Regions from separate parts of the Homo sapiens genome. Here regions 1 and 3 are each linked to region 2. The links come from fine-mapping of genetic effects on gene expression. A gene starts in region 2. Each other region holds a variant in brackets. All regions are shown on one strand. Distances are from middle to middle.

Region 1 (2,766 bases), 55 kb after region 2:
TTATTTGGTGCCAAGAAACAATGAAATAGAATGTAACTTCCTTAACTATTATTGTAGTTCATGCGAATACTTTCCAGAGTCTACAGTGTCTATAATTGAGCTAATTATTGTACCTTAGAGCTTTTAAATTCATTTTTTTCCAGTTATTTTCTTTTTATTAATGTTTTAACTTTATCTGTCACATGTAATAGAGGTTGGCTATTGACAAAAAATTTTTCTCATGTAATTCCCTGGTAGCTTCTGGAGTGATGGTACTTCTAAAGAAAATAAAGTCTAAGGAATTATTGTATTTGCTCAGGGAACATTTATACTTTCAGGGGAAAAATTACCTGTATCTACACTGGTGACAAAGTAGATTTTTGTTTTAAAATGCACTTTATATGTAATTAAAAAGATGAAATGAGTATCAAATGCCTTTTTTAAAAATGGGGATCTGCCTCAGAGGCATTCCCAACATACTTAAGTCTTATCACCTTCTAATAGAAACCATGTATTTATTCGTTCAGCAAATTCTTATTCAATGGTGGGTGGTGGGGAGTCACATTGTTCAAGACAGATAAGGTCTCTATTCTTTCAGAATGTACATTCTGTTGAGGAAACAGCCAGTAAGTGAATAATAATAAAAGGCAAATGTGATAGAATGACTGGGATGGAAGGACCACATCCAGTGAGAGTGATTTGGGAATGCCTCTGAGGAGATGACATTTGCTTTCAGAATTACGTAATGAGAAGGGATCAGTTATACAGAGACATGTGGGAAAAAATTTTCCTTGTAGAGGAACATGCAAGTGCACGGTCCTAAACAGGAGTAAGATTGCAGTATTTGAGGTGCAGAAATAAGGACAGTGTGGCCAGAGTACAGTGAGCAAGATGGTGAAGTCACTTGAGAAACACAGGTGCTGTATCATGCAATGCGATAATAAAGAGCTTTAATTGTATTCTCAGTCATGGGAAACATTTGAAAGGATTTATGTAGGCTGATTATATGATCTGCTTTTTGTTTTAAATATTTTTTAAACATTACTTTGGTTGATGTATGGAGAATGCATTGAAGAGTTAAGAAAATGGAAAAGATGGAGATCAGTTAGGCTGTTGCAATAAATCAGACAAGTGATAATGTTAGCTTAGCCTAGGATCAGAGGAGTAGAGGTAGAGAGAAATGACTGGATTTGGAGAGGATATTTTAAAGTAGAAATAAGAAGGTAGATTAGGTGTGAGGATAAAAGAAACCATCGTTGATGACTTAGGTTTTGTTTTGGGTAACTGA[G/A]CGTCTTGTGATATCATATGTTGAGATTGTGAAGACTGAAGAAGGACTTTTTGGGATGAAGGTGATAGGAATTGGTTCTGTTTGGTAATATTTAATTTGAAGTGGTGTCTTAGCCGTGTGAACTATTAAGCTAATTAAGTAAACTTAAATTGCTGCCAATTTTGAAAAGGAAACATTTATTTTAAAAAAATACCTAGAATATTTGTCCAGGAATCTAACCAAATTTATTTATACCTATGCTTTTTCCATTTTTAAGTCTTAAGAAAGAATCTTGTTGATAATAGTGGATTGTAACGATAAGATGCAGCCTGCAAATCTGGCTATGGCTTTAATAGCTATAAAAAGTTATATTTTTCAAAGAATATGAAAAATTACGCTTTGTGTTATAATAATTCTATAAGATCCCCTTTCCCTAAAATACCTATTTTCTATATATGATTAAGTGTCTTAGAAATCTTTCTTTATATTAACTAGAGATTTACCTTCACATATTAGTTACTCAGTTCTTTTCATGTATAAACAAACGTTCCTTTATCAAAACAAGATAGAACTTATTTTAAAGACAATTTATACTAAATGAGGCCGGGCACTGTGGCTCATGCCTGTAATCCCAGCACTTTGGGAGGCTGAGGCAGGCGGATCACCTGAGGTCAGGAGTTCGAGACCAGCCTCAACATGGAGAAACCCTGTCTCTACTAAAAATACAAAATTAGCCGGGCGTGGTGGTACATGTCTGTAATCCCAGCTACTCGGGAGGCTGAGGCAGGAGAATTGCTTGAACCTGAGAGGTGGAGGTTGCAGTGAGCCAAGATCGTGCCATTGCACTCAAGCCTGGGCAACAAGAGTGAAACTATGTCTTAAAAAAAAAAAAAAAAAAAAGACAATTTATACTAAATGATAGGTAACTTTAAAATTGCTGTTTTCATCTCTGGAAGGATCAGGAATAGCTGTATACCCTAGGTTTTTTTATCTGGAGTCCCCCCAGTAGACTTTGGTTGGAGGAGGTGTGGGTCCATGGACCCCTGAAATTGTTGAAAAAAAGTTACTTGTATCAGCATTCTTCTGGGAGGAAGAAAAGTGGCTGTCATCAGAAAAGACTCAAAAGAATTTAAGAACCAAGCCCCTAGATAATAGCTACATGAAATAGCTTTAAATCTCTTCTTGTAAAGCAACAACAGGGGAAACAAATGATTTGGAATACTAAGAATAAAAAACAAAACACAATTATGGCCTACCCAGTAATCCCTTTTGTGGTAGTATCTCATTTGTGATTAAAAAAATAATAATCCTTAGCATATGTTTTTGGTTATACTGATAAATTTAGATGAATTGAGTTTGGAAGGAACAGTTAATCTCTGAGTGCTACACAAGCAGTTATAATCTTTTCTTTCTAAAATTATCAAAGGGCATAGTTTTTAGCTTGTACAGAATATAAAATTACTGAGCTCTGTTCATTAATGTATTGAAAGACCTCTTGAAATGAGGTAAGAAACTGTTTT
Region 2 (2,766 bases):
AAAAAATGGCTTTAGTCATTTTATCTGCCTTGCATTTAAGCGAATTCAGTTTAAGTGGCTTCAGTTCTGAATTCCTGGATTATATCGAAATGTTGCAGATGGCGGTGTGTGGGCTTTGAGCTCGTAAATTTTTTGTGTGGTACTAATTCAAGACGATTGAGAGCAGGTTGGGATCATTTTAAAAAGAGTTCTCGGCAGGGTGTGGTGACTCAAGCCTGTAATCCCAGCACTTTGGGAGGCCGAGGCGGGCGGATCGCTTAAGGTCAGGAGTTCGAGACTAGCCTGGCCAACATGGTGAAAACCCGTCTCTACTAAAAATACAAAAATTAGCCGGGCGTGGTGGCGTGCACCTGTAATTCCAGCTACTCGGGAGGCTGAGGCAGGAGAATCGCTTGAACCGGGAGGCAGAGGTTGCAGTGAGCTGAGATCGCGCCATTGCACTCCCGCCTGGGCGGCAAGAGCAAAACTCTGTCTCATTAAAAAAAAAAAAAAAAAAAAAAAAAAAAAAAAAAGGGTTCTCTAGTAGGAAGTCCCGAGTTGTATCCATGTTTTTCCGGGCGTCCCCCGGAGGGACAGGTTGCGGGTGACCTTTTCAAGTGTGGAGGAAAGGGAAGCTGCTTTTGTCTTCAGGAATGATGCAGGTCTCGACTCAAGCCTGACGGGCCCAAACCTCCCTGGAGCTGGCTGACGACTCTGCCCGAGTTCCTGAAGAGGGGTCCCGGGGGTCCCGGAGCGGAAGTGGGAGCGCGTGGGCGTGGGCTCCTCGGCTGCCTGGGGCTCCAGACTTGTGCTGCGTGCGGCTCCGGAGCTCTGTTCTCGCTCCTGAGCAGCTGCTAGGTTTCCCAAGCGACTGTCTCAACCGCCCGGCCGCCTCCCCCGGGCAGCCAGAGCTTCACATCTACCTCCAGCCGGGACCCGCCCCCGAGCCGCGGGGCCCACGCCCAGAGCCCTCCGCCGTCCCCAGCGCAGTGCAGCAGAGCGCGATCCAGTCTGGGGCCGGGCCGCGCTTCCGCGCACGCGCGGAGAAACCCGCGCCCTCCGAGGGGGGAGGGGACAGAGGGGGCGTCACGGGGGCAGGAGAAGAAGGAGGAGGAGGCCCGCGTCGCCTCCGGCGGGGCTCGCGCTCGCCCCGCGCTCGCCCTCCGCCTCGCCCGAGCCCCGGGAGGGTGAAACGCTTTCTCCCAGCATGCAGCGGGAGGAGGGATTTAACACCAAGATGGCGGACGGCCCGGATGAGTACGATACCGAAGCGGGCTGTGTGCCCCTTCTCCACCCAGAGGTGAGGAACCGTGCTGAGTGGATTCCTTGCCCTGCGGCCCTCCAGCCTTTCTTCCCCGGACTCGCCGAGGGCGGCGGCCGACGTGTGTGGGGTAGTGGGACGTGCCGAAGTTGGGGAGGGTGGGGAGGCGAATCCAGGCCTGAGCGCGGCTGCGAGCGGATAACGGGGGAGGAGATAGCGGGGCGGGCCCGACCGGGGCGGGCTCTGGGACGCAGTCCCTGGCTGTGCCTGGAGGACAGAGGTGGAGGTGTTGATGGTTCTGCTGTGTCGCCGCGCTGCGTTTGAGAGCAGAGGCGGAGGGGCCTGGTGTGGTTTTTGAACCGCAGCTTAGACCCTAGTCTTGCTCCAAGCCTCTTGGGGCCAGGTGGAAGCGCGTCTGGTTTTGATTTCTTTTTCCTTCGCCAGGGTGAATGACGGTATCTATTGCTTCCTTTTAGTCCACTGTGAGGGGACAGTTTCATGGGCATAGTGATGTCCTTCCAGGTAATGCCATGGGTAGCACCTCGGGCACCTTGTGTCGGGCGTCCTTTTTTGAGCATTTGTCCTTAAGCGATTAAGAAGAGAGGTAAAAACTTTTGGGAATAGACTTACACTCACATTAGCTTGTCAAAGTACCGTTTTTCTAGGAGCTAGGGGTGGACAGTGCAACACGTTTCCCATCACAACATGAGTGTCTTCCCATGTAAGTAAACAGTGCCCCGCTCCACAGTCAGTCAGTCTGTGCTTGTTTACCTCCGAGTTTGTAGCTGAGCTAGTGCTAGTTAAGGCTTGGAAGCAATTCTTGATGCATTCTGATTTTTAGTGATCCACAGTGATGTCTGTATGCGGCAGCGGCACAGTTTGCTGAAGAACTCGGGTAGTTTTCATGAGGTTAAAAGATGACAGTCGTGTTGTAGGATGAACAAACATGGAAGTCTCTACCTGGTTACTTTGCAATGGAGTGATTCTGTTTTTTTCTGGATTTGGGTTTGTACCATGCCACTAGTTTTTGTTAAAAAGTGAATAATGACAACCATCCTTTTATGTTGCATGTTAACACTCAACCACCCTCTCATTCGTCACTTTGGTTTATCAAAAACACATGGGACAGTTCCTTCGGAATATATACCTGTGCCAGTCTCAGTAGAAAAGGCTACTCTGGGTTTCTGATAAACAGAACTATACAGTAAGACTAAACACTTGTCTGACCAAAGTGGTAACATTTTCAGAACTGGCATTGTAGACATCTCTTTTGGTTCACTTAGGCCCTAACATACGTCAGGAAATAGACAAAGTAGTTTTCAGATGTTGCCTTGAAAATGTTGCTAAGTGATTTCTATTCATCTGTTCCTGTGAAAGTATTCGTGAAAGTATTTCAAACACTTAAGTGTTTATCCAGTTTATTTTTTTGAGACGGGGTTTCTCCCTGTCCCCCAGGCAGGAGTGCACTGACACGATGACAGCTCACTGCAGCCTCTACCTCCAGGGCTCAAGTGATCCTCTCCCCT
Region 3 (2,766 bases), 100 kb after region 2:
ACTTCATAAAACTGCCAAATGTCATCGAGTTTCATCCAGACATTATTTCATTTTCTAAAACTTCAATTAAGCTTGAGAAAAAAGTAAATTGTGAGGAAACTCACTGGTAGCACAATCTGGCAGCTGGAAATCAAAGATCAGAATTTCTTCCCCTTATTTAAAAGACAATTGTATGATGATTCAGAGTAGAATGATGGTTACCAGAAGCTCGGAAGGGTAGGGTGTCGGGAAGGAAGTGAGGAGAGTTAATGGGTGTAAAAATATAGTTAGAATGAATAAGATCTAGTATTTGATAGCACAACAGGATGATTACTGTCAACAATCATTGTACATTTAAAAATAAGACAGTATTAACTGGAATGTTGGTAACAAAAAAATAATAAATGCTTGAGGTAATGGATACCCCATTTAAGATGATGTGATTAACATACATTGTATGCCTGTAGCAAAACATCTCATGTACCCCATAAATATATATACCTACTATGTACCCATAAAAATTAAAAGTAAGAAAAATAAAAGGGGGGGGGTTGAATAAAAAGGAAGGAGGACAAAAGGAAGGACAGCAAAGAGGAGGGGAGGGAAGCAGGACTAGCTGGCTGGTTTAAAATTTAGTCTATTATCTTAAACTAAAGTCTTCTATGGTAGAATGAAATGGCATCTACTCTGGAATCTAACTGTTGAGGCTCAAGTGCTGAAATACATGTGCCTAAAGATAACTATATCTTAAACCATAGTTAACCTAACACCATGCACTGCTGAAGGACAACTACCCTTAACAGAGAGAATAAATGTAAATACTGTTTTGAAAAACCTGTATGAACCAAAACAAGTGTAGGTATATGAAAGTGTTACTATATAACCACCCCTTTCTTCCCCAGTCCTCATGCTGTTCTCTGCAGTAAAATTCTCATAGGTCTGCAAACTACTCTGAATTATTTCCTTAAAAGGCATTAGTCAGCAGAGACAGATATTAGAAAGGATTCGTAGAAATGACCAGTAGAGAACTTGACATTTAGTAAAACAAATGTCAACAGCATACACGCATATGTTACTATGGTGTAGACATTGTGGCTTAACCTAGACAGATGAAACTGAGAGCAATTTCTAAAGTATTTGCATTCTGTTTCCATACTTTCTTGGTTACAAGCCTGCTGAAAAATAGATTCCTTTTTTAAAAAAGTAACTTCTAAAAGCAATGGTTAAACCAAGTCTTCTGAGGAAGGCATACATAGTGAACATTCCTATGTAGTATTTTTATTTTTTTGTAACTGCAACTTTCTGTTGTCTGCTTCTGGTTGTCTGCAAAGCAGTTTAGTTATGCTATTAAAGAGGTCCAGATACCTTGAATGCTGGCTCCAATGAGGGAAAAGGACAATTCAAATTTGAGAAAGAAGTCTTTTCCTGAAGATTATTTCTCAATGTAACCTATTTTTAACCTATGGTTTTCTGTAGGAATTTTCCCTGTACAATACTATTGATAAGGCAAACATCTGCCCGTATGGGTGG[G/T]TTTACCTGACATAATCATTCATTAAAGAAAATTCTGTCATTAAATCAGAAGATGATTAATGAAGTGCTTTAAGTTGCTACTCTACAGTTTTAAAACCGAAGACTTTGTTGTCATTAAAGGGAACCTGAGAAAGAGAAAGCTGGGGTGGATGAGGAGCAATCATTTACTCAAAAATGGGAGCTAAGCCCTTGTAATGTGCCAGAAACTGTGCTAGGTGCCAGACCACATAAGTGACACCCAGCACTCAGTGAGGTGGGGGAGGCAGATGTGTTAACAAAATAAAGGCCAAAATGGAGGCCAAAAGCTATGGGGACACAAAGGGAGGCTGGGTGTCTTGGGCCACCCCTCCTGTCTTCGCTGCTAGGCTTGGCATTTACAACATCTAAGAAGACAGGTAAAAACCATTCGTGCTTTCAAAATGATCTTTGTTGGCAAAACCACAATTTTTCCTTAAATAGACATATTGAAGCTCTGTACATACAAATTCCGTCAAAGGTGGAGCATGGAGAGCTACTTACTGCAGAGAAAGCAGCAGCGGTGGAAGCTCCTGCCATCACACTGCACCTCTTCTGCGTGGTACACGGTCCTCCCACAGGCCCCACACTTGTTTCCACCTCCCCAGACAGGCATTCTGAAGGAATAAAGGATTCATTAGAATGTCCCTGTGCTGGTCGTACGGCTCCCTAGAGGGCTATTTAAGCCCAGGGACAGCTGCAGATTTTCGTTTCTTTATGAACCTCTCTAACCACATCTTTCAAAGGCCTGCGTTCCTCCAAAATAACCTCATCTCCTCTCCCAAATAACAACTCTTTCATTAGGAAACTGGCTTGTCGTGCACAAGATTTTTTTTTTTTCCTGCCAGACAAAGGACCTGCATTCAGTACAATAGTACAGGTCACCAGGCACAAAACAAGCTATGCCATTAGAATCCACAGGAGTTAAGAAAGAAGCGTGGGGAGGGGAAAGGCAAGCCTTGTCCCCCTCCCTAATATGCCCATTTTTAATAAACATATTTTTTTGAACTCAGCTGAAGATCTTACCCTTGGGTGGAGGTTTTCATTACATGTTTAATTAATTGTAACAACACTAAATTCTTAACGTTTAACATATATAAGCTATAACACGCTTTCTAGGGAACAAAGTGTGTTGCCCTGCAAGAACAAGTTTTATATTTGTTTGCTGAAATTACACGATTGTAGCATAAATAGCTGTGTCTGTGACTCGTACAACTGCATGCACGGAACTTTTGCCGTAAC

Evidence for each region. PIP is the estimated chance that this variant, and not a neighbour inherited with it, causes the effect.
Region 1: its variant is the best candidate, but not a certain one, in a credible set for the expression of ZDHHC17 in whole blood (INTERVAL, PIP 0.57).
Region 3: its variant is the best candidate, but not a certain one, in a credible set for the expression of ZDHHC17 in whole blood (INTERVAL, PIP 0.74).

The regions. Positions count from the first base shown.
Region 1 is chr12:76,817,868-76,820,633 of GRCh38, forward strand. All of the region lies in intron 7 of ZDHHC17 (zDHHC palmitoyltransferase 17), which reads left to right. Among named protein-coding and RNA genes, the nearest start is that of ZDHHC17, 55 kb to the left of the region's middle. The variant G/A (reference allele first, on the strand shown) is at 1,268.
Region 2 is chr12:76,763,051-76,765,816 of GRCh38, forward strand. ZDHHC17 (zDHHC palmitoyltransferase 17) reads left to right here and starts at 1,065. Exons shown (of 17, transcript NM_015336.4): 1 at 1,065-1,279. The coding sequence starts at 1,187. RefSeq lists enhancers at 563-662, 959-1,253, 1,229-2,071, 1,263-1,412 and a silencer at 803-1,212.
Region 3 is chr12:76,864,121-76,866,886 of GRCh38, forward strand. CSRP2 (cysteine and glycine rich protein 2) reads right to left here. Exons shown (of 6, transcript NM_001321.3): 2 at 2,029-2,141. The coding sequence starts at 2,140. Among named protein-coding and RNA genes, the nearest start is that of CSRP2, 14 kb to the right of the region's middle. RefSeq lists a silencer at 1,027-1,136. The variant G/T (reference allele first, on the strand shown) is at 1,510.